Homo sapiens: one gene and its partners. The protein of the gene in region 7 purifies or fractionates together with the protein of the main gene of each other region. This does not show direct contact. Each region holds a gene or a part of one and is shown on either strand. Other genes may lie near its edges. The genes, in order: ZMYM2, ATIC, DBT, ECI2, NUP214, TSPAN3 and ACOT13.

Region 1 (3,500 bases), on a different chromosome or scaffold from region 7:
CGTCAGTGGAAGATGATGATGATGTTGTTTTTATCGAACCTGTACAACCTCCCCCACCTTCTGTACCAGTGGTAGCTGATCAAAGAACCATAACATTTACATCATCAAAAAATGAAGAACTACAAGGAAATGATTCCAAAATTACTCCTTCCTCAAAAGAGTTGGCATCTCAGAAGGGAAGTGTAAGTGAGACAATTGTCATTGATGATGAAGAGGACATGGAAACAAATCAAGGGCAAGAGAAAAATTCCTCCAATTTTATTGAACGAAGACCTCCTGAGACTAAAAACAGAACCAATGATGTGGATTTCTCCACTTCCAGTTTTTCAAGAAGTAAGGTAAATGCAGGAATGGGTAATAGTGGTATCACCACAGAACCAGACTCTGAAATTCAGATTGCTAATGTTACAACTTTAGAAACAGGTGTAAGCTCTGTGAATGATGGCCAATTAGAAAATACTGACGGGCGAGATATGAACTTAATGATTACACATGTAACATCACTGCAGAATACCAACTTGGGAGATGTCTCTAACGGACTGCAGTCAAGTAATTTTGGTGTTAATATACAAACATACACCCCATCTTTAACTTCACAGACCAAGACTGGAGTAGGACCTTTTAATCCTGGTAGAATGAATGTGGCAGGAGACGTTTTTCAGAATGGAGAATCTGCAACTCATCATAATCCTGGTAAGCAGTAAGAGATACTCTACTTCATGTAAATGAATTTAAACTTTTGGCTGCTGCTTTTTTCATTGTAGTAACTGGTATTACCTTGTTTAGTTTCATCATGTGAAATATGTGAATTATATTGAATTTTATCTTAAGTTTGGTATTTTAATAAGAATTGTAAAACCATGTATAGTATTTTTCTGTGGATTACTAAAAAGTTAATCATAAAGTAGTTTTATATTTAAAGGATTTAAGAAAAAAATACTCTTTACATTCATCACCAAAGTCTGATAATTTGGCCGGGCACGGCGGCTCACACCTGTAATCCCAGCACTTTGGGAGGCCAAGGTGGGTGGATTGCTTGAGCCCAGGAGTTCGAGACCAGTCTAGGCCACATAGCGAGACGCCATCTCTAAATTTAAAAAGCAAAACAAACAAAAGAATGAAGTGTGATAATTTAATATCTTGTTTGTCATGCATTACTTTTTGCTAATAGAATTTTTACTAGTGTTTTAGTATATAAATTAGAGAACCAAAAGATTAATATAATAGCACACTTAAAGAACAGTGTAATATTGTACAGTAGTTGCATTTAGATTTTTTTTTGAGATGGAGTCTTGCTCTGTCACCCAGGCTGGAGTGCAGTGGCGCAATCTTGGCTCACTGCAATCTCCGCCTCCTGTGTTCAAGCGATTCTCCTCCCTCAGCCTTTCAAGCAGCTGGGATTATAGGCGTCCACCACCACGCATGGCTAATTTTTGTATTTTGTATGGGGTTTTATCATGTTGGCCAGGCCAGGCTGGTCTCAAACTCCTGACCTCAGGTGATCTGCCCACCTCAGCCTCCCAAAATGCTGGGATTACAGGCGTGAGTCACTGCACCTGGCCGCATTTAGATTTATTTCTACTTTCCCTGTGCTTATTTAATTTAATTAATTAGTTAATTTTTTGGGACAGGGTCTCTCTCTGTCGCCCAGAGTGGAGTAGAGTGGCACAATCTCAGCTCACTGCAACCTCGACTTCTTGAGCTCAGGTGATCCTTCCATCGCAGCCTCCAGAGTAGCTGGGACCACAGGTGTGAGCCACCATGCCTGGCTAAATTAAAAAAAAAAAAAAAAATTATTTGTAGAGACGGAGTCTTACTGTGTTGCCCAGGCTGGTCTTATACTCCTGGGCTCAAACATTCCTTCTGCCTTGGCCTCCTAAAGTACTGGGATTCTAGGTATGAGCCACCATGCCCAGCCATTTTATTTTTTATTAAGAGTTGGCTAAGGTTTTATTTTTCTCACATTTGAAGAAAGCCAAACATATCATCCTTTTTTTCTTTTCTAAAACTACTTTAAAGTTATGATTGACATGCAAAAGGCTGTATATATTTAATGTCTACAACTCGATAATGCCGTGTTTATTTTTGACCACGTATCTTTAGCTTTTAGTTAGCATTTTACTACTAAAAAATTTTTAAAAATTATTTTTATTTTTCAAGGGCATAAATAAGCAATACTTTTTTTTCTTATTTATTTGTTTATTGACAGAGTCTTGCTGTATCGCCCAGGCTGGAGTGCAGTGGTGCAATCTCGGCTGACTGCAGCCTCTGCCTCCCTAGTAGCTGGAATTATAAATGTGTGCCACCATACCCAGCTAATTTTTGTATTTTTAGTAGAGACGGGGTTTCACCATGTTGGCCAGATTGGTCTTGAACTCGTGGCCTCAAGTGATCCATCTGCCTTGGCCTCTCAAAGTTCTGGGATTACAGGTGTGAGCCACTGTACCCAGCCCCCCACCTTTTTTTTTGAAGGTTGATAGTTTTCTTGACTATTTGAAATTGTTTTCTGTGAGCAGCCTTGTTCTGTGAAAACTTTAAAATATGGAAGTGATAAGAACTCTGTGCCAGCCTGGACAACGTGGTGAAAAAATACAAAATACTGAAAATATGAAAAGTTAGCTAGGCATAGTGGTGCACACCTGTGGTCCCAGCTACTTGGGGGGCTGAGGTGGGAGGATTCCTTGAGCCCCATAGGCAGAGGTTGCAGTGAGCCAGGATTGCACCACTGTATTCCAGCCTGGGTGACAAAGTGAGACCCTGTCTCAAAAACAAAACAAACTCTGTGACTTTTTCATGACATGTCTGTGGATGTCTCTCTCTCTCTTTAACCTCTCCCCCAATTCCTCTGTGTGTGTGTGTCTATCGGCGTTTCTCTCTCACATGCCTCTCTCTGACCCATTCTGTCATCATTTTAGGCTCATTATCCTAGGGATTGTGGAGAATAATGTGAAGTAACTAAAATCTAGGCAATGTAGAATGCTATATGAATTGCTAGTTATTTTTCTTATTTGTCGAGTAATGTCTGATTATTGAAGACTGCTTAGAAAATCTATAATTTAAAACAAGAGCTGGTGCCAAGCATGGTGGCTCATGCCTGTCATCCCAGCACTTTGGGAGACCAAGGCAGGAGGATCACTTGAGCTCAGGAGTTTCAGACCAGCCTCTGGGCAACAGAGCAAGACCTTGTCTCTACTAAAGATAAAAAAAAAACTAGCCAGGGCTGGTTGCGGTGGCTCAAGCCTGTAATCTCAGCATTTTGGGAGGTCAAGGTGGACGGATCATCTGAGGTCAGGAGTTTGAGACCAGCCTGGCCAACATGGTGAAACCCCATCTCAACTAAAATACAAAAATTAGTGGGGCATGGTGGTGCATGCCAGCTGCTCGGGAGGCTGAGGCACGATAATTTGTTGAACCTGGGAGGCGGAGGTTGCAGTGAGCAGAGATTGCACCACTGCACTCCAGCCTGGGCGACAGACTGAGACTCTGTCTCAAAAAACAAA
Region 2 (4,309 bases), on a different chromosome or scaffold from region 7:
TTCTTGGCCTCAAGCCATCCTCCCACATCAGCCTCTCAAGTGGCTGAAATTATAGGCATGAGCCATCACAACCAGCAAAAAGTTAAAATTGAGGGTAAGAAAGCTACTCTCATCTCAAAACCCCAAGTTAATAGTATTTTTTTAAATGCAGGATTGGGGAAAATAAACTATAATAAGGATAAACTAGAAGGGTATGAGTATAAAGGAAAGAGTAAACAAGGGAGAAAGAGACACAGAATAAAAGAGCAAATTACCGCTTCAAACATGAATTGCACTCACCTGAAGGACACAATAGTTTCCATTTTTCTTTTTGGAAAGTATTGTCAAGGCTTCTTCTTCATATCCTGGGGCAATTATACCATCAGATACCTGCAAAAATATTAAATTTTAATTTCTATTTTTAAAAATCAGAGAACACCTCTTAAAAAAATCTAGCAGCAATTATCAGTCTTAAATAATGTGGCAGCATATTCTGGTTTCTGCCTCCAACAAACAATGCTAACGCTATACTTGAAAAGAGAAATCTATTAGAATACAGCTTTCTGTATAGCAGATCCTAACTTTCTGTCCTCTCCAAGTTTTTGTTCGTTTCAGTTTAAACTAAGAAAATATGACTGATTTGCTCTTAACACATGTACCTCAGGAGGAAATATTTCTTCAGGGAGTGTTTTGAATGAGCAAGAGCACATTCTAGTCCTGACTCTCCTAGTACATGGTTAAATGACCTCTTCCGGCAAGGCGTTTTCCTTAACAGCAAGACCAGATTAAATCAGAGATTTGACATGACGAAAGATACAAATGTCACAGCCCTCCTGTAACCTGTAACCCAGGGATGGCAGTGGCCATGGAAAGAATCCTAAAGCAACAAAATAGTGCCAAGCCACATGCTCCTTCAGCCTTCACCTCTGCTTATTTTTTTCCCCTTTCTGAGCTATTTAATCTTTTTCTCTTTTCTTCCTGTCTTCCTACTACCAACAGTACCCCCACCTGTCTGGAATACCTGTTTGGTATTCAACTGATGGGGTAAGTTTATTAATGTAGTTTCTGTTTTTTACCCACTATGCAGTAAGATGGATTATATCGCATCACCACCTAAAATTACAACTTCTGCTCTTCAGAAACAGTAACTTTGGCATGAAGACAACAAAGAATTTAAAATAAATATATAAGTAAAAAACATCATAACAGCCAAATATCCATCTGAAACAATAATTCACTACATTTCAAAATTAACAATTTAAGATTAATGTTCTATTTAAAATATGAACATTAAATGATAAACTTAGCTAATTAAAAGATATTATAAATATAAATATTATAGGTTATGGTTTCAATTAACATTATGAACAAATAAAGCTTTATTCAACACACAGATTAAGATACATGAATGTCCACTAACTTCTCTGGAAATAATTTTTGCAGTTGGTACATCACAAACATCGGACAATGCAACAAAATCACCAAATGAAGACATCCTATCAGCCCCTGTAAATAAAATTAAAATGAGGTATTTATCACAAAGTATCCTGATACAGAAAAAGTAATAAAATTCTCCACTGTCATATAAAATTCATTACTCTAAAGCTAATCTTACTGTTTACATAAGATTTTAACAGATCAATAAGTCATTTAACTGAAGTAACCAGTAAGAAAGTATTCTTTAATTTTACCCTCTAGAGTGACACTCAGAAAACTTTTTCTGTGAAGGACCAATTTATATATACTATATTCACAAAAACAGGGTGGCAGGCTGGATTCAGCTGAAGTTGCTGACCACTGCTGTAGATGATAAACTATGGTAATAGTTTCTCAAGAACTTTCAGAAATACTAAAGGGATATTCATGGGTTATTAAATTCAACAAGTAAATGTCTCTGATAAAACATGACTCTAACCAAATGTAGTAAAGTTAGAAGAGCCATAAATCACGCCTGTAATCCCAGCCCTCTGGGAGGCTGAGGCAGGTGAATCACTTGAGGTCAGGAGCTCAAGACCAGCCTGGCCAACATGGTGAAACCATGTCTCTACTAAAAATACAAAAAAATTAGCCAGGTGTGGTGGCACGCACCTGTAATCCCAGCTACTCAGGACGCTGAGGCAGGAGAATCGCTTGAACCCAGGAGGTGGAGGTTGCAGTGAGCTGAGATGGCGCCACTGCACTCCAGCCTGGGCAACAGAGCAAGAAGCTGTCTCAAAAAAAAAAAAAAAAAAAAAAGAATAGCTTTTTGTAATTTCAATTTTGGTCACATATTAAACAATAACAAATGCATTCAATAGCCTAAATTAGCAAAATTACATTGACCAAATTCCAATTGTGTTTCCATTTATTACACTAAAATACTAACAAATACTTTTTTTTTTTTGAGACGGAGTATCGCTCTGTCACCCAGGCTGGAGTGCACTGGCGCTATCTTGGCTCACTGCAAGTTCCACCTGCCGGGTTCACACCATTCTCCTGCCTCAGCCTCCTGAGTACCTGGGACTACAGGTACCCCCCACCACGCCCAGCTAATTTTTTGTATTTTTAGTAGAGACGGGGTTTCACCGTGTTAGCCAGGATGGTCTCGATCTCCTGACCTCGTGATCTGCCCGCCTCAGCCTCCCAAAGTCCTGGTACTACAGGCGTGAGACATTGCGCCCGGCCTAAAATACTAACATACACTTTTATAAAGAAATGTATTTTGAGGTACTCACAGAATCAATCTCAAATATTAATAAAACAAATTAAATAGGAAATCCTATAATGAAACAAAGGGTATTTTACTTTAATCAAACTATATTATATAGAATAACTGTATATTTACATAGAGATAGAAGTCCTTAATTTCATCTATATATTATACAGAATATCTATATATTTTTTCTTTATTCTATCCTCTTTATTCTATTTAGGATAAAATATTGCTTTTTCTTTCTCCCCCAAATCAAAAAGCCCTATGAGTCTGACCTCTTGCTCTTGCATATGCCGCTGAGATGGGTGTGAGGGTTTTATAGAGATCATAAACCATGCAGACTTTGGCCTCATCTTCACTGAGTGGAATTCCAACAGCAGCACCTGGTTAGAAAATAGTAAAATCATAAACAAAGAAAGCTAAAGTTACTACCTGTCAACTCCTAAATCAAGACAGTTTTCTTAACACCCAGTCTACGCAGCACATTTTCTAGTGCCTGTGCTAAATTAAACAGAAATCTATTTAGCCAGATAATTATACACTAAAAATATGGTTGTGGGAGCAGTGTGAGGGAAATCTCCTCTCTGCCCTCCAAAACCACAGAGCCACTGAAGCCTGACAGTACCCAGCGTGTAGGTGAAGCTCGTTTACTTCATTACTGACTCACTCTTTCTCTCTGTTCTGCTTGATATCACTTTGATATCACACATCATTTATTTCTTCCCCACTCACATCACTTTAACACCCAATAAACACCTGAGAACAAATCATGTGCTGGAGGACTGTCAGCAAGATGTGGTGTACAGACAACTCAATTGCGGAGTTCATGATTTAAACACAGAAGCAAAGTATCTCATACAACGACTATAAGAAGTTTCAGATAAAGAGTCCAAAGAAGAACTTCTTTATGTTTACTCCATTACATTTTCAAAGATGTGGCACAAGACTTAGTCTATTGCATTAGGACATTTCACTTTTATTTTCTAAACTTTTATGGTTCCACCCCACAAACAAATTCCTGCCTCATTTTCCTGACAATATTACACAATTCTGTGTGTGTGTGTGTATCAGATTTTATATTATTACATTGATACTGTTATCAACAGATGACTTTCAGATTTCATAGCATGTCTATATTCACATTAGAACTTGTTAATATTCAAAAAAATTTAAGAAGAAATGCCTTTCGAACAATTCTGGAGCTTTCCAGAGCACAGAGCTTTACCTGCTGGGCTGACATGTTTGAAAGAGGCAGCGGCTGGAATACCTAAAGCCTCCTTGAGTTCCTTCACCAGCTGCCAGGCGTTCAAAGCATCGCACAAGTTTATAAATCCAGGGGCTCCATTTAGAACTAAATGTAAAAATATACATGCACATTACTAAGCAGGATCAGTAAGGTCAGATGTATGCACACTTCTCAAAAAAATAACATGACTAAACAAATGTTTTAAGTATAATTAAGAGCCAAACAGATACACACAAACATAAAATCTTGATGATAAAGAACAAAGCAACTGAGCCTGAGCCCATCTTTAAAAAAAATGCACATGTACATGAACACACACACACACACACACACACACACACACACACACACACACGACTGGAGGACCAGAACCAGCCAGTCTAGAAATAAAT
Region 3 (4,309 bases), on a different chromosome or scaffold from region 7:
GGTCAGGAGATGGAGACCATCCTGGCTAACACAGTGAAACCCCATCTGTACGAAAAATACAAAAAGAAATTAGCCAGGCGTAGTGGCAGCCTCCTGCAGTACCACCTACTCAGGAGGCTGAAGCAGGAGAATGGCATGAACCCAGGAGGCAGAGTTTGCAGTGAGCCGAGATCGCAGCACTGCACTCCAGCCTGGGCCACAGAGCAAGACTCTGTCTCCAAAACAAAAACAAAAAAAAACAAATCCAACTTTGTTTCATGCACAAAAATGTTAAAAATATTGTATAAAATTACCTTTAGGCTATGTGTATGAGGGGTAAATGAAACATAAGTGAATTTCATGTTTGCACTTGAGTCCTGTCCTCAAGATATCTCCTTTGTATATGCAAATATTCCATAATCCAAAAAAATCTTAAATCCAAAAACGCTTCTGGTCCCAAGCATTTCAGGTAACGGATACTTAAACTGTAGAGACTTTCTGGAGAACATATGACAACATGAACCAACATTTATAAAAATTCGTGTTAAGGAACTAAGTGCAGAAGTATGTAGGGATACACAGGGATGTTGAGTACACACTGTTTATAAGTTTGAGAAACTGCAAATAATCATGATGTTTATAAATAGGTCACTGGCTAAATAAATAACAAAGCTATACTTGTTGACAATGATGTCTACAATATAGTAAATGAAAATGAAGAGGCTGGGCACAGTGGCTCATGCCTGTAACCCAGCACTTTGGGAGGCTGAGGTGGGTGGATCACTTGAGCCCAGGAGTTAGAGACCAGCCTGGGCAACATGGCAAGACCCCATTTCTACAAAAAAAAAAAAAAAGTACAAAAATTAGCTGGGCATGGTGGCACGTGCCTATAGTCCCAGCTACTCAGAAGGCTGCGGTGGGAGGTGGACACTGCAGTGAGGCGATGATTACACCACAGCATAGATATTCTCTATGGGGAATACTTTAGATAGGCAACAGAGCAAGACTCTGTATCAAAAAAAAAAAAAAAAGAAAAAGAAAAAAGCAAGTTAAAGAAAATATAAATAATTCTATATCTTGTAAAAAGTATGTAAAAATGAAATCCTAGAAAGATGTATATCTCAACATAAACAGTGAGCTATCTTAGGGTCATGGAATTGAGGGTAAACATCTTTGTTTTCTTTTTTCTTTTCTTTTCTTTTCTTTTTTTTTTTTTGACAAAGGCAGGGTTTCACTTTGTCACCTAGGCTGGAGTGCAGTGGCATGATCACAACTCACTGCAACCTCCATCTCCCAGGTATCATATGATTCTCCTGCCTCAGCCTCCCAAGCAGCTAAAACTATAGGCATGCACCACCATGCCTGGCTAATTTTTTTTTTCTGTAGAGATGGGGCCTCCTAACTTTGTTGCCCATGCTGGTCTTGAATTCCTAGGCTCAAGCCATCCTCCTACCTCTGTCCCCCAAAGTGCTGGGATTACAGGCAGGAGCCACCACACCCGGCCAACATCATTTTCTTGCCTGAAATTTTTTTAATAAGTATATACTTAATCAGGAGATATTAAAATTAAAATTAATACAGCTGACTGTATTAACCGTATGGGAGCTGACCTCCCAGAATATCTAAGCTCACTTTCTGGTTGTACATGTCTTTTCTTTTTTTTCTTTTTTTAATTCTCTTTTTGAAATGGAGTTTTGCTCTTGTCGCCCACGCTGGAGTGCAGTGGCACAATCTTGGCTCACTGCAACCTCCGCCTCCTGGGTTCAAGCAATTCTCCCACCTCAGCCTCCTGAGTAGTTGGGACTATAGGCGCTGGCCACCACGGCTGGCTAATTTTTGTATTTTTAGTAGAGACAGGGTTTCACCATGTTGGCCAGGCTGGTCTCAAACTCCTGACCTCACATGATCCACCCGCCTCAGCCTCCCAAAGTGCTGGGATTATAGGCGTGAGCCACCGTGCCCAGCCTCTGGTTGTGCACTTCTAATGATAAGTAAACTTCAGGAAAGGCATCTCAAAAAGAGTTTTCGGTCTTAAGAAACTTTCACTACTCACAGAAGAGTTTACTCAAATTGAATTCAAACTTTTATTATTTTTCTCACTTAAATTATTCTTAATATTAAAATTCCAGGAATTTGCCAGGCACAGTGGTTCATGCCTGTAATCCCAGCACTTTGGGAGGCTGAGGCAGGAGGATTGCTTAGACCAGAAGTTCAAGACCAGCCTGGGCAACATAATGAGACCACGTCTCTACAAAAAATTTAAAAATTAGTTGGGCATAGTGGCGCATGCCTATAGTCCCAGCTACACAGGAGGCTGGGGCAGAAGGATTGCTTGGGCCTGAGAGGTTGAGGCTGCAGTGAGCCACAATCACAACACTGCATTCCAAACTGGTGACAGAGTGAGACTCTGCCAATAATAATAATAATAATAAGAAGAAGAAGAAGAAGAAGAATAAGAATAATAATATTAAAATTCCAGGAATTCAATTTTGAAAGAGCTGCTTCTTTTTGAGAGGGTAAGTAGAGTGGGTAACATAATCTGCCATACAGCTATGTATTTCCATTATTTTAAGCAGGAAAAAAAAAAGCTTAAAAATAGTTTTAAGAATCTCTAAACAGTATTATTAACACAAAAACAACAACAATGAATTAGACTTAAGTTTAATGTTTTACCCCATACCTTTAATTCTAGTCTAAAAAAGATCACTATTTGAGGTACAATAGAAGTCTCTAATCTACAAGCACATTTGCCCCATCTTCTATTAATAATAAGAACATTTTTACTCTGCATAGCCAACCTTATATGTTATATTCTGGCAGTTTTCATCCACAGAAGCGTTAAGGATAGGAAACTGTAGTAATCCCAAGGAAGCAGCCTGTTTAACAGAAAAAGAATGCAATTTTAGTACTTTTAACTTAGAAAGGATAGAGAATTTGAAACAATAAGAGGTATAAAAGGAGGGAGAGAGAGAACTCTTATTTATGCTGAGTTTAATTTCAAGTCTACATGTACCTAGTCACATTACTGCCAATGTTACCTTCAGGCCATGTGGAACTAGGTCACCCTAATCATTAAAGAATAAAAGATAAAGTAGTCAGGTAGCTTGTAAACATCAAGGAGATTTTCAAAATAATGATACAGACCAGCCAAAGTTCCAAAGAAAATGTCTAAATTCTAGGTGATTTCCTCACTGACATGTTGATCTTAAGATTTCCATGAGAAGTAATACTAGGAATCAAAACACAAAAAAAGCAGGTAAGCTATTTCTCTGTGTGGAAAGAACACGTAACGAGGATTTCAAAGCGCACTGACCAGTAGATGCCAGTTTGCTACTTGGTGTCCTTGGCCAGCTGAAGGGCAGAGATGTCCTGAACATTTACTTTACAGCTCAAGTCTCACTGAATAGCATTTATATTTTCCCTCTCTGCTGCCTTCTCCCTTTTGTCACTTAATACCATTTCTCTCCTGTCCATATTCAGATTTCCCTAACTGTACCCAAAATGTTCTTGATAATCTGTTTTTGGGATCTAATAATCAAGTTTCATACCTTACATGTGGTGGCCATGCATTGTATTGAATTTAAAAGATAGCAAAATAAAAATGCTTAAGATCATTCTTAAAAAGAATTCCCTCCCCCACTGCCCTTGTCTGGTCCCTGTTAAAGTTCTTTACATGCATTGTGTTATTCTTCTCAGTGCATCGGGGTCTTGATGGGAAAAAAATCAAATTCTTGAACTAGAGAGTTAAGAAAAAAGTTTAAATATATAGAGACATTTCATTTTCATTAGTTAGGACAGGTTAAGAGAGTAGATCAACTGAAGAAAAATATAATTAAAAGAACTGCTACGAGTTCCTTAATTTTTATGACTTGGAAGTTTTTCTTGTTTGTTTTTGAGACAGGGTCTTTCTTTGTCACCTAGGCTGCAGTGCAGTGGCATGATCTCAGCTCACTGTAGCCTCAACGTCCTTGGCTCGAGTGACCCTCCTGCCTCAGCCTCCCGAGTAGCTGGAACTATAGGCGTGTGCCACCATGCCCAGGTAACTTTTGTATTTTTTGTAGAGATGGGGTTTCACCATGTTGCCCAGGCTGGTCTTGAACTCCTGAGCTCAAGCAATCTGCCTGCCTTGGCCTCCTAAAGTGTTGGGATTACAGTCGTGAGACACTGCGCCCAGCCAACTTGAAAGTTTTAGTAAGCATTTGATTCAATAACTGTAATTTTAATAGTCTTTATCTAAAAACCCCTAAGGTTAGTCTAAACTGTTACATATAAAAATATTTGAGTATAATCCAAATTTTGTCCAAGAAAATACAAGGTATGTGTCAATGGA
Region 4 (4,309 bases), about 21 Mb from region 7:
GTAAACAAAATTATCTTGCACTGAGGCAGAGGAATTTAGCAAATTCTCATCCAGCCAGAGGAATGGGAGATTTCCATGAACGCTGAAGGTAGGAGACTCGGAGGAGTCTTGTAAACACAGGAGGAGGTCATGAAGGCTTTTCTCTTTATTCCTGCCAAATCTGTAATTCCCACTTGTTGTGATATTGCAGCATGTGCTCAGTCACCCAACCTAATCTCTAAGACTGCGGCTGGTTTACAGCCCTGAACTCACTGTCCAGAATACAAGATTCAAACCAGGGTTGACCCATAGGTCTCACTGGTTGGTCTTCCATCCACTGCCATTCAGACGGATGCCCTGGATGAATCTGGTGCGGAAGACCAGGGAAGTGGCAGGACAAGGAGGCACTGCTGGTGGTGGCTGTGGAAACACCCAGCCTGACAGAAGGCTTTATCTCAGAGTCAGACTGTCTTGCCCATGCTTTAGTCATGCTGCTTTGGCACATTTAATGATTTTGTGTTTCCATTTCTGTAGGGAATTTGTGGGCTGTTTTATAGATTTTCCTAAGCCTCTGATTGCAGTGGTCAATGGTCCAGCTGTGGGCATCTCCGTCACCCTCCTTGGGCTATTCGATGCCGTGTATGCATCTGACAGGGTAAGTCAGCTCCTAGAAAGCAAGAGGTCAGGCAAGCAGCGCGAGATGAGAGCCTTTGAATCCTCCTTCAGCGTTGCCAGTCATAAGCAGGTTACATGTTGTTTGTGGTAGAATTAACTGAATTTAGATTTTTCCCAAAGCATTAGGCTGATTTGACTGATTTTATTTTTCCTTCATTATTAACTTGCATTTTGTTGTGAACATTGTTCCAACTCTGACTGTTCCGGATTCTAATCAAATTCCACAATAGGTATACAGCTTTCATGTTATTCTGAAAGATTCAGGAGACACTTGAAAATTTGTTATGGGAGGGAGGAATAGCATCTTTGCAGGTTGTGCAAGGGATTAGTTGATCCTTTTTACTGAGTAAATGGATTTAGAATTTTAGAAGGAGAAGGACCTGTGAGCATTATCTACTGTCACTCCCTCCTTTGCAGATAAGAAAACTGAAGCTCTGAGAAGTTCCTTGCCCAGAACACAATTCAGCCTTGTGTTCACCATTGCATTATACAGATTTTAGTTTTTATTTTTACTACAGTAGTAATATATATGTCATAGTGGAAAATAAAATTTTGAAAGATATGAAAAAGTACCAAGAAAAGCTACAAGGTAAAAATCACTCCTTATCTTGCCACCTAGAGATAACCAGTCCTAACGTTTGGGTTATTAACTTATCTTGTTTAACCAGTCCCTGACTGCTGGAACCCTAGGCTGTTTCCAATTTTTATCATTACAAGCACCTAATAACCACCTTTAGGGTATCAGATTGTCCAGTGACTTATGCTTATGTGATGGTAAACTGTGCTGATGATTGCAGCCTTCTAGGGAGCATATGGTTTTTACCACTGAAGAGATTTCTAGTTTTGTTCAGAGGTATTTTCCCCACTGATAGACAGGACCATATAATAGCATCCTTAATTCTTCGAATTTTCTTTTGCTGGATTCCATTGAACCAGATTGGATGTATTGACAGACCTAATTCTTATGAATAATTTTCCCACAAAATTAGCAAATGAGATTCTAGGTGCCAGGCTGCCCAGCCTTTGTAGGTAGAGGTTTCTGTTCAAAGGCAGAAATCAATGTCTTTGTTCACAGTCTGTGTATTAGATGACTGATTAGTCATTGACCTGCTTTTAACAGGGACTGGGTCAATGGTTCCTGACCTAAAATTGGGGATCTCATTCTTTAATACTTGGAGGGCAAATATTGTATTTGAATCTTGTTCTGATTCTCCCACTGAATTGAAAATTACTTTCAATATACATCATCCTTATTTTTTTTTTTTTAAGAGATGGGAGTCTCACTCTGTCACCCAAGCTGGAATGCAGTGGCACGATCTTGGCTCACTGCAGCCACCACCTCCCGGGTTCAAGCGATTCTCCCACTCAGCCTCCTGAGTAGTACAGGTGCGTGCCACCACATCGAGCTAATTTTTTTGTATTTTTAGTAGAGACAGGGTTTCACTGTGTCGGCCAGGCTGGTCTCGAACTCCTGACCTCAAGTGATTCGCCTGCGTTGGCCTCCTGAAGTGCTGGGAGTACAGGTGTGAGCCACTGAGCCTGGCCTGCATCAACCTTTTAAAAATGTTGATGACTTCCATCTTATGATATAAATTGTAATAAATGTTGAAATCAGAAAACATATATACATAATACATATAAAACATATCTATTCTATATATATTATAATATATGTATATTGCATATATATATTAAATGCTAAAAAATTTGGCCAAAAGTAAAATTTATTTGTCAAATAGTGTCTTCTGATAAAAGTTTACCCAACCAAACAAATCAAGCATCATTTAAAATAAAGGAAATTGAGGTGGGCAGATCACCTGAGGTCAGGAGTTCAAGACCAGCCTGGCCAACATGGTGAAACACCATCTCTACTAAAAATATAAAAATTAGCCGGGCTTGGTGGCGGGTGTCTGTAATCCCAGCTACATTGGAGGCTGAGGCAGGAGAATTGCTTGAACCCAGGAGGTAGAGGTTGCAGTGAGCCGAGATCGTACCACTGCACTCCAGCCTAGGTGACAGAGCGAGACTCTGTCTCAAAAAAATATATAAGTAAAAAATAAATAAAATAAAGGAAATATGCTAAAGGAAAAGGCTGTAGAAAAAATTGTTTTATAAGATTTACCATTATTGGCTTCAAGAATAAATATCATATTAAATGATGGGTTAATATTTAACCCATATAACCAAAATATTAATCAGTACATTTAATCTATTTTATACTGTGGGCAATGGTTAATAATGCCTATTAGCTCTGTCAGCAAATGATACATTTCCTGTATGAGTTAAGAAAAAGGTAGAAATCATAACAATAATAAATCTTTGAGTGGTCACTGTTTAGGCACTCTATTCACATGCATTATGTATATTATAAATATACGCATACACACACACATATTCACGTAATGTACAGAGTAGCCCGATGAAAGAAGGACTTGGCCAGGCACAGTGGCTCACGCCTCTAATCCTGGCACTTTGGGAGGCCAGGGCAAGTGGATCACCTGAGGTCGGGAGTTCAAGACCAGCCTGGCCAATGTGGTGAAACCCCTTCTCTACTAAAAATACAAAAATTAGCCAGGTGTGGTGGCAGGCGCCTGTAGTCCCAGCTACTTGGTAGGCTGAGGCAAGAGTAAGGCTGGGCAACAGAGTGAGACCCTGTCTATAAAAACAAACATTCTCCTCCAATGTGGCAAAAATAAGTTTTACAATCTAGGCTGGGCATGGTGGCTCATGCCTGTAATCTTAGCACTTTGGGAGGCCAAGGCAGGTGGATCACTTGAGGTCAGGAATTCGAGACCAGCCTGGCCAACATGGTGAAGCCCCGTCTCTACTAAAAATACAAAAATGAGCTGGGTGTGGTGGTGCACGCCTATAATCCCAACTGCTCGGGAGGCTGAGGCAGGAGAATCGCTTGAACCCGGGAGGCGGAGGTTGCAGCGAGTTGAGATTGCGCCACTGCACTCAAGGCTGGGCAACCGAGCAAGACTCCGTCTCAAAAAAAAAAAAAAGCAAAGAAGGATTGGTTCCCATTTTACAAATGAGAAAACTGTGGTACAGAGAGGGTAAGAAACTTTCCCAACGTCCCTAAGTAGTCTGACGCCAGAGCCTAAACCCTTAACTCCACCTGCTGCTCTCTTTCTGAAAATCAGCATTTTAAATGCTGCTTACTGGCAACTTTGCATGTACCTGTTTGTGTCCCTTTAGCTGTTGTTGGCAGGTTTCTCAGTTTCCTGCTTGTATTCCTTAGGCTGTGTCTTCTGGGTACATTTTTTTGAATAAGTTTTCTTTTGGATAAAAAAAGAAGATACATGACATTAACAGAAACTTTTAAAAATATTGTGATTATTTTTATGTATATGCTGCATATGTTATAGATTTATATCTTCTAACAGTTATATAGTAAAAACAACAGCGTGTCTGATTATAGGAAATGAAATCTAAATATTCTTTTACATATTATGAATTTTAAATTAACATTCTTTCATAATTTATTCATTAAGAAACACAAAAATATGTCTTAAATGTAAAAAAAAAAAAAACTAAAAATGACTATATACTAAATAACCAATATTGAATTAATTCCAGTAGTTAAAGCCAACCAAAAAAACCACTGGGGCAAAATCAAGACAAATGACAGATTGAGGAAACAATTTTTCAA
Region 5 (4,309 bases), on a different chromosome or scaffold from region 7:
GGATTTTCTTCCTTAGCTATGGTGTCTTCACTTACAGTGTAAAGAAAACGTACAAAAGGAGAGAGGAGATGGTGAAAGGAGTCACAAAGTTTTTGAACTAGATTTTCCTAGCCGTAAAACTCAGTTCTGTCAAAATGACTGAGTTAGGGCTTCTATTTCATTGTATCCATTGTTTTCCCTAGCAGTGTGGGGCTCTCTGACATGCTTGTTGGTCTTGGAGGGGTTCTGAGAGGCTCTCCCTAGTCTTAAGTGCTTCTGTCTTACCAGACCTTCCTTCTGTCCCCTCACTTAACAGACCATCTGCTCCGGCCACCATTCCCACATGCACATTTGTCATGTGTCTCTACTGCTGCAGCTTTGCTCATCTTGCAAGAAGTCCCCACTCAAACTTCTGCTACAGAAAGCCCAGCCATCCCCCAATGGGCTCTCAACTGCTATCCCTGTCGTATCTCACACACAAACTGCTTCTCTGCTTAGAGATCATAGAGTGGCCTTACTGCTTCTGAGATAGGTGCTTTGACTCTGTTGTCATTTATCTTCTAGATTGTAAATTCCTGAGGGCGGTTTGTATGAATGAATGATAAAATGGAATATTAAGAGGGCAATATTGTGCCTTGGTTTGTTCCTTTTTAATTTCTCTTTTTCCACTTGTTAGGACTGGCTTTAATTTTGGGATAATCACACCAACACCGTCTTCTAATTTCACTGCTGCACAAGGTACAGACTCTGTGTTGAGTAGCATTACTCATGTGTTTTCTCTAAATAAGTACAGGTTATTTTTGCCCACATGTTAGTATTTGACTTGTTCCTGAATCTTACTTACAGTATCTGCAATAAGCTCAGTGTTGATAATGTGCATTAGAAATATGCTTAATTTAAGAAACTGATGTGAAGGATTTCTATTTTTATAATTAAGGACAAGGAAAGGATTTGCTTCTAGAAAATCAGGGCTGTGCTTTAACATTTAAATGTTAACATGTGAATTAAAATTTCTCCATTTTTTGTCTGTAATTTAAAATTTCTTCAATTTATAGGGTGATTCTGTAGGGCAAGATAGACATGGTAATAGATAGACTGTAGAAATGAAAGACCAAACTCGTTTTTTTCCTTGATAACATACCAGCAAACACACTCATCCCATGCATGTTGTTAAAAATCCATCAATAGACTGGGCGCGGTGGCTCACGCCTATAATCCCAGCACTTTGGGAGGCCGAGGCAGGCGGATCACCTGAGGTCAGGAGTTCAAGACCAGCCTGACCAACATGGAGAAACCCCGTGTCTACTAAAAATACAAAATTAGCCAGCCGTGGTGGCGCATACCTATAATCCCAGCTACTCAGGAGGCTGAGGCAGGAGAATTGCTTGAACCTGGGAGGCAAGGTTGCAGTGAGCCAAGATTGTGCCATTGCACTCCAGCCTGGGCAACAAGAGTGAAACTCTGTGTGTCCCCCCCCCCCCCCGCGCCAAAAAATCCATCAATAGCATGTTTTTAACATTTAAAAGAATTTGAAGCCCTATAAAGAAACCAGATCTATTTGTTAAGTGCCTTTCAGTTATCCGTTTATGATTAAGTCTTTTATTTTATTTATTTATTTTGAGATGGAGTCTCACTGTTGTCATCCAGGCTGGAGTGTAATGGCGCAATTGCAGTTCACTGCAACCCCCACCTGCTGGGTTCCAGCGATTCTCCTGCCTCAGCCTCCCTAGTAGCTGGGATTACAGGCGCCCACCACCACATCCAGCTAATTTTTGTATTTTTAGTAGAGACAGGGTTTCACCATGTTGATTGATCAGGCTGGTCTCGAACTCCTGACCTCGTGATCCACGTGCCTTGGCCTCCCAAAGTGCTGGGATTACAGGTGTGAGCCACCACGCCCGGCCTCGTTACTCTTGTATTTATTAACCACTGTTGTTTGACCAGGCCTTATGGGTGCTTTACCCATATTTCCTGCGATCTTTGTAACAGCACAATGAAGGTAGGTATTGTAATGATCTAGATTTTCCAAATGGGGGAATTGAGGCTCAGAGAGGTAAAGCAACCTTTCCAGATTCACACAACCAGCGAGTGGCAGAGTGCATAGCTCCAGAGCCCATGTCCTTGACCACCAGACCGTACTGCCTCTGTCAAATAGCTGACTTAGTAGAGCACTAATAAGTAGCCATTAATTGTACATAAAAATGATTTTCTGTGGACTGACACTTTATTTGCTCATAAAAATGAAGGAAGAACTTCCATTTTGAATCAAGTCCTGGTCTATCAGGAGGTCCACAGGCCATTGCTGTGCTGAGGATGTTATTAAGGAAAGCACACAGCTAGGGTAAATTAAGGGAAGAGGCTTTTTTATTTCTCTTTGGGATAATATGTTAATTTCACATATTCTAGATATTTTGTATTTGTTGTGATTTAATGGTCATAAAAAAAGTATTTTTTCCTTTTCACCTCAGACGACTCAGAGCTGATGTTTGTGTGGAGAAGCACTCATTCCACCTCCTTAGAGAAAGCTGCTGTGAGAACAAGGCACCCTGACTCTGTAGAGGGAGGAGAGAAACTTTGGCTTAGAAACACAATCAGTGGAAATGTAATGGGTCATCTTTTGCTAAATCCAACCCATTTTCTGATTTCTTTTTCTTGCTAGGGGCAACACCCTCCACTAAAGAGTCAAGCCAGCCGGACGCATTCTCATCTGGTGGGGGAAGCAAACCTTCTTATGAGGCCATTCCTGAAAGCTCACCTCCCTCAGGAATCACATCCGCATCAAACACCACCCCAGGAGAACCTGCCGCATCTAGCAGCAGACCTGTGGCACCTTCTGGAACTGCTCTTTCCACCACCTCTAGTAAGCTGGAAACCCCACCGTCCAAGCTGGGAGAGCTTCTGTTTCCAAGTTCTTTGGCTGGAGAGACTCTGGGAAGTTTTTCAGGACTGCGGGTTGGCCAAGCAGATGATTCTACAAAACCAACCAATAAGGCTTCATCCACAAGCCTAACTAGTACCCAGCCAACCAAGACGTCAGGCGTGCCCTCAGGGTTTAATTTTACTGCCCCCCCGGTGTTAGGGAAGCACACGGAGCCCCCTGTGACATCCTCTGCAACCACCACCTCAGTAGCACCACCAGCAGCCACCAGCACTTCCTCAACTGCCGTTTTTGGCAGTCTGCCAGTCACCAGTGCAGGATCCTCTGGGGTCATCAGTTTTGGTGGGACATCTCTAAGTGCTGGCAAGACTAGTTTTTCATTTGGAAGCCAACAGACCAATAGCACAGTGCCCCCATCTGCCCCACCACCAACTACAGCTGCCACTCCCCTTCCAACATCATTCCCCACATTGTCATTTGGTAGCCTCCTGAGTTCAGCAACTACCCCCTCCCTGCCTATGTCCGCTGGCAGAAGCACAGAAGAGGCCACTTCATCAGCTTTGCCTGAGAAGCCAGGTGACAGTGAGGTCTCAGCATCAGCAGCCTCACTTCTAGAGGAGCAACAGTCAGCCCAGCTTCCCCAGGCTCCTCCGCAAACTTCTGACTCTGTTAAAAAAGAACCTGTTCTTGCCCAGCCTGCAGTCAGCAACTCTGGCACTGCAGCATCTAGTACTAGTCTTGTAGCACTTTCTGCAGAGGCTACCCCAGCCACCACGGGGGTCCCTGATGCCAGGACGGAGGCAGTACCACCTGCTTCCTCCTTTTCTGTGCCTGGGCAGACTGCTGTCACAGCAGCTGCTATCTCAAGTGCAGGCCCTGTGGCCGTCGAAACATCAAGTACCCCCATAGCCTCCAGCACCACGTCCATTGTTGCTCCCGGCCCATCTGCAGAGGCAGCAGCATTTGGTACCGTCACTTCTGGCTCATCCGTCTTTGCTCAGCCTCCTGCTGCCAGTTCTAGCTCAGCTTTCAACCAGCTCACCAACAACACAGCCACTGCCCCCTCTGCCACGCCCGTGTTTGGGCAAGTGGCAGCCAGCACCGCACCAAGTCTGTTTGGGCAGCAGACTGGTAGCACAGCCAGCACAGCAGCTGCCACACCACAGGTCAGCAGCTCAGGGTTTAGCAGCCCAGCTTTTGGTACCACAGCCCCAGGGGTCTTTGGACAGACAACCTTCGGGCAGGCCTCAGTCTTTGGGCAGTCGGCGAGCAGTGCTGCAAGTGTCTTTTCCTTCAGTCAGCCTGGGTTCAGTTCCGTGCCTGCCTTCGGTCAGCCTGCTTCCTCCACTCCCACATCCACCAGTGGAAGTGTCTTTGGTGCCGCCTCAAGTACCAGTAGCTCCAGTTCCTTCTCATTTGGACAGTCTTCTCCCAACACAGGAGGGGGGCTGT
Region 6 (4,309 bases), on a different chromosome or scaffold from region 7:
CCATGAGTAAGATTTCTGGGGGAAAGGTGCATGTAGAAATTTAATTCGATGAAAAGTCTACCCTCTCTCCCCATTAGCTGTCAGACTACAGGGACTGTGTTTACTCTATTTCTCAAAAAAAGGTCAAGGGTAGATATTCAACACACATTTACTCATGAATGATTCTTAGTACACCCGTCTGGTCTAAGTACAAACTTTATGGAATACATTTTCTGAAAAAAAAAATCAAACAAGCCTAACCTGAATTGGATCTTATGGAATAAAATTCATTAAATTATTTCAAAGCATGATAAATATCCTAGAAAGCTAATAACCCATTCCCTAAACTGCAACTAGAGAGAGCGCCCCTGCTGATTCCAAGTTCTAAATGATTACTCAGGGCCACAAGGCTCTTGGTCAGTGGACAGGTGACTAAGAATGTAGTAAGAGTGGAAACATTCATTTTCTTAACTGTTGAAGACAAACTAAGACAGACACTTCCTATTATGTACTTGCTTCCTGACAAGTTAGATTTTCTTCTAGTGAATTGAAAACAAGCATGAAAAAGCAAAGTTAGCTGAAGGTGTGTCCCATGACATATTCTTTGTCAGAGCAGTCATTCATGATAGGAGAAATACAGGAAGTAGAGAAACAAATTCCAGGATATCAGATGCAGGTTCCGGTTTAAAAGTATCATATTACCACCTCGAATGTGTAGGATGTGCTGGAAAACACAAAGTATGTACAAGATTTGTGACAAGGGAGAACCACACTTGAAATACCTCATTATAAAGTTTTATTTTTTAAACAAAAGCATGACGGTATAAACCTCTTAGTAATTTGAACATAGCAAGTATATTTTTGCCTTACAGCCTACAGCCTGTTCCTTCAGTTCTGAATCCCCCCAGTCTCCCAATCTCTTCCAAATCACCCAAGTCAGCAACTTCTTATACTCCAGATTTTTTTTGCCAACATAAAGCACGACCCAATCACTTTATCACATCACCCTTTAATTCTCTGCATAACACATCACTCTGATCATTTTTCTTGTTTATTTTTGTGTGTCTTGCTTCACCGGAAAGTAAGTTCTGTAAGAATAGGGATTTTTCACTGTCTTTTCATCATTTATCAACAATATAAGCACAAAGTAGGTGCTCAAATAGTAGTGTTATATTTAACAAAGCAAATTTTCCTTAATTATATACATTCACAGACATAAGCGTGATAAGTTTTATTTATTTATTTATTTTGAGATGGAGTCTCGCTCTGTCGCCCAGGCTGGAGTGCAGTGGCTCGATCGCCGCTCACTACAAGCTCCGCCTCCCGGGTTCACGCCATGCTCCTGCCTCAGCCTCCCGAGTAGCTGGGACTACAAGTGCCCACCACCACATCTGGCTAATTTTTTGTATTTTTAGTAGAGACGGGGTTTCACCGTGTTAGTCAGGAGGGTGATCTGCCACCCTTGGCGTCCCAAAGTGCTGGGATTACAGGCATGAGCCACCGCACCTGGCTGATAAGTTTTATTTTTAAAGGCAGGATAAGTTTTAAAGGTTACATATGGCTTTCAACTACAATTTATATGTGTGAAGTATTTCATATGAATGAATGATGGTTAGTGAAGGTGCCACGTTCCAAAGCTATTTCTAAAGGCATTTATTTAAAAGGCGTTTGACTTTTTTGCGGTACTTCCCCCACTCTACAGGTGTCTCAGTTTTATACTATCACCTCTCAGATGAAAAACAACAACCTAAATAGATATTTAAGATTATAAATTCTATAAGCATGGACAAAGCTTTCTGTTCCAGTCCCTGTAATGCCTAAGATAAATATGAGCAAAATAAGTATTAGCCAATTAGTTTTTCTAATAGGGTTTAAAAAAAAAGTAAAGGTAATTTGTATAACATAGGACTTGATTAAATAATCAATTAATTTACCGGAATAAAAACTTAATGGTAGGAAGTACTGATTTAAACTTGTTTTAGACGAGCCCTCTTTGGTCAGATTAAATGACTTACCAAACTAAAAATCCTGTCTGACCTTGGTACAAAGGTGCAGTTTACAGAATAGGCTAATGCCTATTTAATACAATAGCCTTTGCTGGGCGCGGTGGCTCACGCCTGTAATCCTAGCACTTTGGGAGACCAAGGCAGATGGATCAAGAGGTCAGGAGTTCGAGACCAGCCTGGCCAATATGGTGAAACCCTGTCTCTGTTAAAAAAATACGAAAATTAGCTGGGCATGGTGGCGCACGCCTGTAGTCCCAGCTACTCGGGAGGCTGAGGCAGGAAGATCGCTTGAACCCGGGAGACAGAGGCTGCAGTCAGCCAAGATCGCACCACTGCACTCCAGCCTGGGCGACAGAGTAAGACTTCGTCTCAAAAAAAAAAAAAAAAAAAAAAAAAAAAAGCCTTTAAAATTTAGTCATTTACCTAAAACACTTCTAACCTTCTTCAATAAATCCTCATGGGTCCAGCATGAATACACTTATATTTAAAGCCTCATCATTCCATAAAAACAGAGATCCAAGATGATCCAAGCTGTACATCCTTTCACTTGTCCAAGATTATCTTTCAAGCTACAAATCTTAATATTCTAGAATTTGGTGAGAAACTGTCTTAGTCTGTTTTCTGTTGCTTAGAACAGAATACCTGAAACTGGGTAATTTAAGAAATTTTTTTACATACATGGAGGCTGAGAAGTTCAAGGTCAAGGGGCCGTAGCTGGTCAGGGCCTTCTGCAAAGTCCTGAGGTGGCCCAGGACATCACACGTGGTGAGGGGGCTGAGTATGCTGGCTCACGTCTCTCTGCCTCTTCTTATAAAGCCACCAGTCCCATTCCCATGAAAACCCATTAATCCATTAATCCATGAATGGATTAATCCATTCATGAGGGTAGAGCCCTCATGACCCAATCACCTCTTAAAGGCCCCATCTCTCAATACGGCCACATTGGGGATTCAGTTTCAACATGAGTTTTATAAAGGACAAACATTCTAACCATAGCAGGAGTTCCCTATTTCCATTAAGACAAATTTCAGGATTTTAGAAATGATTGTTTCTGCTTTTGGTTTGTGCCTTTCCACAGTAACATTATTACAGCATTGTTCCAAACTATCTACACCAAATCAACAGTAACGATTTTAGCTGTCAGATAATTTACAGCCTGAGTATTTCAGGTATATATCTATCTCCATGTCACAGTTCAATGAACAAAATGCCAGCAGAATCAGGATATCAAGACATAAGAAAGTGTAGTTTAAAGGTCTTGCCAAAGCAATTAAACTTTGACCCTTGTTAACAATCAGCCATTACCATCTGACAGTGAAGAGCCAATGCAACATAGTTTTTATTGCCTACAGTTGCCCAAGGGAACCTAGGTAAACATTTGATAAGCTCTATGGAGAGTATGTTTATTCTTCCACTTATTCATCATCTCAAGGCATTAAAAGGAGGGAGGGGCCAGCATATAAGAATACATTTATTAGAACTGAAGAATGCATTACAAATTCCCAGGAAGAACCTTTTAACATTTTTTAATGTACTTCCTCATAATGACTTAATTCAAAACCAAACAAAGTGTCATGTAAATTCTGGTACAGTTTCTAATTTTAGCAATCTCAAAATCAGCATGCTTTAGAGAAGTGATTCTAACAACTTTCTTCTCTTTACAAATCTTCTGAAATCACACTTTGTCCTAACATCACAGTCTCTAGAGTATGGGACAACCTGGGTTTGAACGCAGGCTGTATCACACCTTGGGTGTGCTACTTTGGCTCAGTCAACCTTAATGTTCTCCTCTAAAATGTACCTAATATTCCCTGCTAGATGGGAAAGCTGTGAGGATATGCCATGTAAAGTGTTTAGCACAGTGCCTGGGGTATAGTAACTCAAATGTTAGTTGCCATTACCCATCATCATCAGATTCCCACAGTTAGTCCACAAACTAATACTTTCTTGGGAGACATACCTAATGCTGTTTCCTCATTAGCTACATTGCACTGTGACACATTTGCCCCCAGCGTATCTGCTTAACTTCCTTATCACAGCTCACAAAAACTTTACTACCCTACTAACCAAGATAAAGCATATTTTTACTAAACATTACCACTTCAGTCTTGGCAATAACCCGCTATGAAAAGCACCACTGAAGTTCAAAATAACTTTCTTCACTGGAATAACAGTACATATATTTACACAATATCCAAAGATTCAGAGGAGTCACTTAGAACTGATATTTTAGAGTAAATAAAAATCTAATTTAAAGAAAATGGTTACTGTATTTCCAATATTTTGTTACATGAACAATTCCAGTCCCTGAGCTTGAATAACCT
Region 7 (4,309 bases):
GTTTTGTTTTGTTTTTGGTTTTACAGAGAAGAGATTTTTATTACAAAGAAAAAAATTCCAGTGAATTGTGCAGAAATGCTGGTTTTTACACCATCCTAAAGAAAAACTTTACAAGGGTGTTTTGGAGTAGAAAAAAGGTTATAAAGTTGGAATCTTAAATTGTAAAATTAACCATTGAGTGTCAAAGTTCTAAAAGCAGAACTCATTTTGTGCAATGAACATAAGGAAAGACTACTGTATAGGTTTTTTTTTTTTTCTCCTTTTAAATGAAGAAAAGCTTTGCTTAAGGGTTGCATACTTTTATTGGAGTAAATCTGAATGATCCTACTCCTTTGGAGTAAAACTAGTGCTTACCAGTTTCCAATTGTATTTAGCTTCTGGTTGGAATTTGAAAAAAAAAGAAAAAAAGAAAAAGAAAACCTAAATAAAATAGGTGAAAGTTCCCTGACTATTCAGGTGAATACACAAAGTTTGAAGTGTTAACTTTTTCTTTCCATTTCACTGATGTTACTGGTCACCTTAGAGAATTATTTCATAGTCTGTGGCTAAATAGTAAATTCAGAAGAAAAATACCTGGCAATTGAGTGTGTAACTTCAACAAGAACAGGAATCAAGAACATACTGTCAGCTTTCAACAGTTAGCAACCTGGCCTTATGCCTTGCTTCATGGGAAAGGGCCATTCTTAAATTTCAAAATGCTTTCATGTGTCCTCTTATTTAAAAATTAGAATCTATTTGAAATAACATTTTGAATGTTTATTATAACCAGGTACTCTTCTAAGCTCTTGTCTTAACCTCTCAACCTTTGGTGGAAATAGATGCAGAGGTTAAGTAACTTGCTCAAGCTCAGATCATAAGTAGTGGAGGATTTAAAACCAGGCTGGCTGGCTCTTAAGGCCTATGCTCTTAATTTACCATGTTGAATTAATTTACCATATTGAATTACACTTATGTTCACCAAGTTAGGCATTTTGGCAGCCATTGTTTACGTTTTTATTTTGGAATAATTTAGAAAAGTTACCAGAGTAATATGAAAGCTGTTGTGTAATCTTTACCCTCATTTTTATTATTTTGCCACATTTTTTTCATTTTCTCTGTACACTTATACCTGTGAGCTATTTGAGTTTGTTGCACACTTTGTGCTTCCTTACCCCTTCCTTAGTACTTCGGCATATGTTCCAAGTACAAGAATATTTCATATAACTAGAGTAAAATTACCAAACTCAGGGAATGTTGATACTCTTTATCATCCATATTCGTTTTGTTGTCCCAGTATCCTTGGTAGCTTGTTTTAGATCCCCCCCTCTAGAGTACAGGATCATTGAATTTAGTTGTTCTCAGTTGTCTTTAATGTGGAACAGTTCCTTAGCCTTTATGTGTTCCATGACCTCTATGTTTTTTGGAGTACAGGGCAATTTTTCTTGTAAATTGTTACTCATTTTGCATTTGAATTGTTTATTCATGCTTAACGCCCTTCTCAAGTATACTCTCCATCTGCTCTTCATTGATGTTACTTTTGAGCGCCTGGTCAAGGTGTCCTGGTTTTGCCCTATGTGTGGTACTTACTACTAGCAATCTCTGGGAAGCAATGTGCAAATACCCTGTTCCTTTATCAGGAGCTCCCTTGGCGATTCTTTCCAGACTAAAACCCAAACCAGTCTTTAACTATGATGGTTACAAAATAGTGATTTTCCAAATCTAATGCTTTGTCCATTTACAGCATTTGTTGTAAGAGAGTGTTCTATCTCTGCCATTTATTATCTACCTAAACACTATGGCCTCATATTTTTTCCCTCCAAATCATAATTTGCATGCCTTTATTATTTTGAGCATCTCCTTTCATGCATAAGATACTGTAACCTTTCTGTCCCAGCCTCAAGCCCTGGAGTCAGCTGTTTCTCCAAGGAGCCCAGCTTCCTTTTAGTGGGAAATACTAGAAGTAAACATCTGGGACTCCTGTATGCTCACTGCTGCTATTGCTACTGTGGAGTCTTCTGCCCTTTCACAGTGGACAGATCAGCAGGCGATCTAATGTAGGGAAAGGATTTGTCTTTAACTGTTAACTTGACTTAAATTTACTTAAAGCTGCATCCTTTTTAGTCTTTAGTCATGAAATGTTCATTAAGATTCCCTGACAGAAATCAAGTAAGAGTCAGCTGGGTGCAGTGGTTCACACCTGTAAGTCCAGTACTTGGGGGGCCAAGGCAGGAGGATTGCTTGAGCCTAGGAGTTTGAGACGAGGCTGGGCAACAGTGAGACCTTGTTTCTACAAAAATAAAATTAGGCGTGGTGGCACACGCCTGTAGTTCCAGCTACTCAGGAGACTGAGGTGGAAGAATGTCTTGAGCCTGGGATTTTGAGGCTATGGGAAGCTGTGATTGTATCACTCCAGCCTGAGTGACAGAAGCTGTCTCAGAGTGCCACAGTCAACTGAACTTGGAGACTTCTGAGAAGTGAACTTGGTCTTTTCAATACTATAGACTTGGAGGTTTGAGATCTGCATGGTTTTATTCTCGGTACAAGAAAAGGGGCTAGTAGCATGCTTTTTTTCTTCCCCCTCTATTGGACCATTTCCTGTAACACTAACATGCTTAGCCTCAAACTTTTCTTGAGGTCTTTTTTAGGCATATGGCTCAATCTATTTTATTTTTCAATATGGGCTGTAGTTCATATATTTTGAAGTTTCATAATCTTAAAAAAAGGAAATGCAAGTGTAGCTTGGCATTTTAGATCTGGGAAGGACCTAAGATTCGCTAAGGATTGGCCATTGCTGTGGTCTCCATGTGTTTCCCCTAAATTTGTATGTTAAAATCCCAACCCCCAAGGTGATATTAGCAGGTGGGGGTCTTTGGGAAGTTATTAGATCACGAGGGCAGAACCCTCAAGATTGGAGTAAGTGCCCTTACAAAAGAGAACCCAGGCTGGGCACATTGGCTCACACCTGTAATCCCAGCACTTTGGGGGGCCAAGGCAGGCGGATCACCTGAGGTCACGAGTTCGAGACCAGCCTGGCCAACATGGTGAACCCTGTTTCTACAAAAAACTACAAAAATTAGCTAGGTGTGATGGCACATGCCTATAGTCCCAGCTACTTGGGAGGCTGAGGCAGGAGAATCACTTGAACCCAGGGGGCAGAGATTGCAGTGAGCCGAGATCGTGCTGCTGTACTCCAGCCTGGGCAACAGAGCGAGACTCCATTTCAAAAACGAGAACCCAGAGGGCTCACTTGCCCCTTCCACCACACAGTGAGAAGGCACCATCTATGAGCCAGGAAGCGGGCCCTCACCTAACAGGATCTGCTGGGCCTTGACCCAGGACTTTCCAGCTTCTAGAACCATGAAAAATTTCTGTTGTTCCTAGCAGCCCAAACAGAATTAGAACCATTAATTTCTATTTCTCCTTTAGCTTAACACTGGACTTTAGTTTTAATCTTAACTGAGAGTGGTCCTGCTAGTTTCTTTGCTTTACCTGTTTTTAAAACACTTTGAGCTAAGAATTTTTCACCCAATTATCACACATGATTAGAAAACAAGATGCTTAAAGTGAAAAAAGACACCCCCACCTTTACCCTACTTGATATCCAGGTCCTTTTCCTCCAAGAATATTTCTAGCTGCTTCTGGTTTTGCTAGTTTATTTCAAAAATTACAATTGTTTGAGTCAAATCTATACTTGATATTCATTGTTGGGTTTCTTTAGGTCATTCTGCTGTTCTCTCAGTTTCCCAGGTGTTTTGTGTGTCTTCCTTGTGCTATTAATTTTCCTGTGGCCTTGTTGGTCAGATCCACAGAGGTAAATGCAAGTGTTTTTCCTTGCTTCAGAACATGTGCTGTAATCACTATATCTTCTCCTAATTTTGCAGGTGACATGTACCTTGAAAGAAAATGAATATAGTTAACAGCAGATAATTTTTCAAAGGGAAAGTTGTGTGCATCTCACAACAGTGTTCCTATGTAACTTATTTTACTCCTAAAAATAGTTTTAACGGTAGTATTGGTAAGCTTTCTGTACTATCAAATGTGAATGGCTGGTCCTAACCAGGTTCTATTTTACCCATTCCTTACCCACACAAGTTTCTTTTCCCAAATATGTGAGAAGAGGTTTTCTTGCCTCCCCTTTTTTCCCTTTACATTTCCCACTTCACATTTATTTGGGGCTGGTGAAAGATTTCCTCCAGCTTTCATTTAATCTCCTTAACTTCTTAGATGAAATATCACTTGGTGTCTGTATATTGTCCTATCCATATTTACAATTTATTTGACTCTAAAATGACAATATAACAACTATAAGGAATTGATATGATGTCCTTAC

The links.
Region 1: the proteins of ACOT13 (region 7) and ZMYM2 purify together in Homo sapiens (affinity purification with mass spectrometry; one large-scale study listed by BioGRID and IntAct). This does not show direct contact.
Region 2: the proteins of ACOT13 (region 7) and ATIC fractionate together in Homo sapiens (co-fractionation; one large-scale study listed by BioGRID). This does not show direct contact.
Region 3: the proteins of ACOT13 (region 7) and DBT purify together in Homo sapiens (affinity purification with mass spectrometry; one large-scale study listed by BioGRID and IntAct). This does not show direct contact.
Region 4: the proteins of ACOT13 (region 7) and ECI2 fractionate together in Homo sapiens (co-fractionation; one large-scale study listed by BioGRID). This does not show direct contact.
Region 5: the proteins of ACOT13 (region 7) and NUP214 fractionate together in Homo sapiens (co-fractionation; one large-scale study listed by BioGRID). This does not show direct contact.
Region 6: the proteins of ACOT13 (region 7) and TSPAN3 fractionate together in Homo sapiens (co-fractionation; one large-scale study listed by BioGRID). This does not show direct contact.

The regions. Positions count from the first base shown.
Region 1 is NC_000013.11:19,993,227-19,996,726, forward strand, and holds part of ZMYM2 (zinc finger MYM-type protein 2), read left to right. Parts: coding exon 1-693; intron 694-3,500. UniProt on the Homo sapiens protein: Involved in the negative regulation of transcription.
Region 2 is NC_000002.12:215,332,095-215,336,403, reverse strand, and holds part of ATIC (bifunctional purine biosynthesis protein ATIC), read right to left. Parts: intron 4,023-4,309; coding exon 3,897-4,022; intron 3,055-3,896; coding exon 2,947-3,054; intron 1,486-2,946; coding exon 1,400-1,485; intron 370-1,399; coding exon 280-369; intron 1-279. UniProt on the Homo sapiens protein: Bifunctional enzyme that catalyzes the last two steps of purine biosynthesis.
Region 3 is NC_000001.11:100,207,917-100,212,225, forward strand, and holds part of DBT (lipoamide acyltransferase component of branched-chain alpha-keto acid dehydrogenase complex, mitochondrial isoform 1 precursor), read right to left. Parts: intron 3,209-4,309; exon of another isoform or gene 3,124-3,208; intron 2,856-3,123; coding exon 2,778-2,855; exon of another isoform or gene 2,777-2,777; intron 1-2,776. UniProt on the Homo sapiens protein: The branched-chain alpha-keto dehydrogenase complex catalyzes the overall conversion of alpha-keto acids to acyl-CoA and CO(2).
Region 4 is NC_000006.12:4,121,575-4,125,883, reverse strand, and holds part of ECI2 (enoyl-CoA delta isomerase 2), read left to right. Parts: exon of another isoform or gene 1-513; coding exon 514-634; exon of another isoform or gene 635-924; intron 925-3,837; exon of another isoform or gene 3,838-3,935; intron 3,936-4,309. UniProt on the Homo sapiens protein: Able to isomerize both 3-cis and 3-trans double bonds into the 2-trans form in a range of enoyl-CoA species. Has a preference for 3-trans substrates.
Region 5 is NC_000009.12:131,194,578-131,198,886, forward strand, and holds part of NUP214 (nuclear pore complex protein Nup214), read left to right. Parts: intron 1-655; coding exon 656-717; intron 718-2,638; coding exon 2,639-4,309. UniProt on the Homo sapiens protein: Part of the nuclear pore complex. Has a critical role in nucleocytoplasmic transport.
Region 6 is NC_000015.10:77,064,216-77,068,524, forward strand, and holds part of TSPAN3 (tetraspanin-3), read right to left. Parts: intron 1-4,309. UniProt on the Homo sapiens protein: Regulates the proliferation and migration of oligodendrocytes, a process essential for normal myelination and repair.
Region 7 is NC_000006.12:24,701,021-24,705,329, reverse strand, and holds the end of ACOT13 (acyl-coenzyme A thioesterase 13), read right to left. Parts: intron 3,872-4,309; coding exon 3,715-3,871; 3' UTR 284-3,714; downstream 1-283. UniProt on the Homo sapiens protein: Catalyzes the hydrolysis of acyl-CoAs into free fatty acids and coenzyme A (CoASH), regulating their respective intracellular levels. Has acyl-CoA thioesterase activity towards medium (C12) and long-chain (C18) fatty acyl-CoA substrates.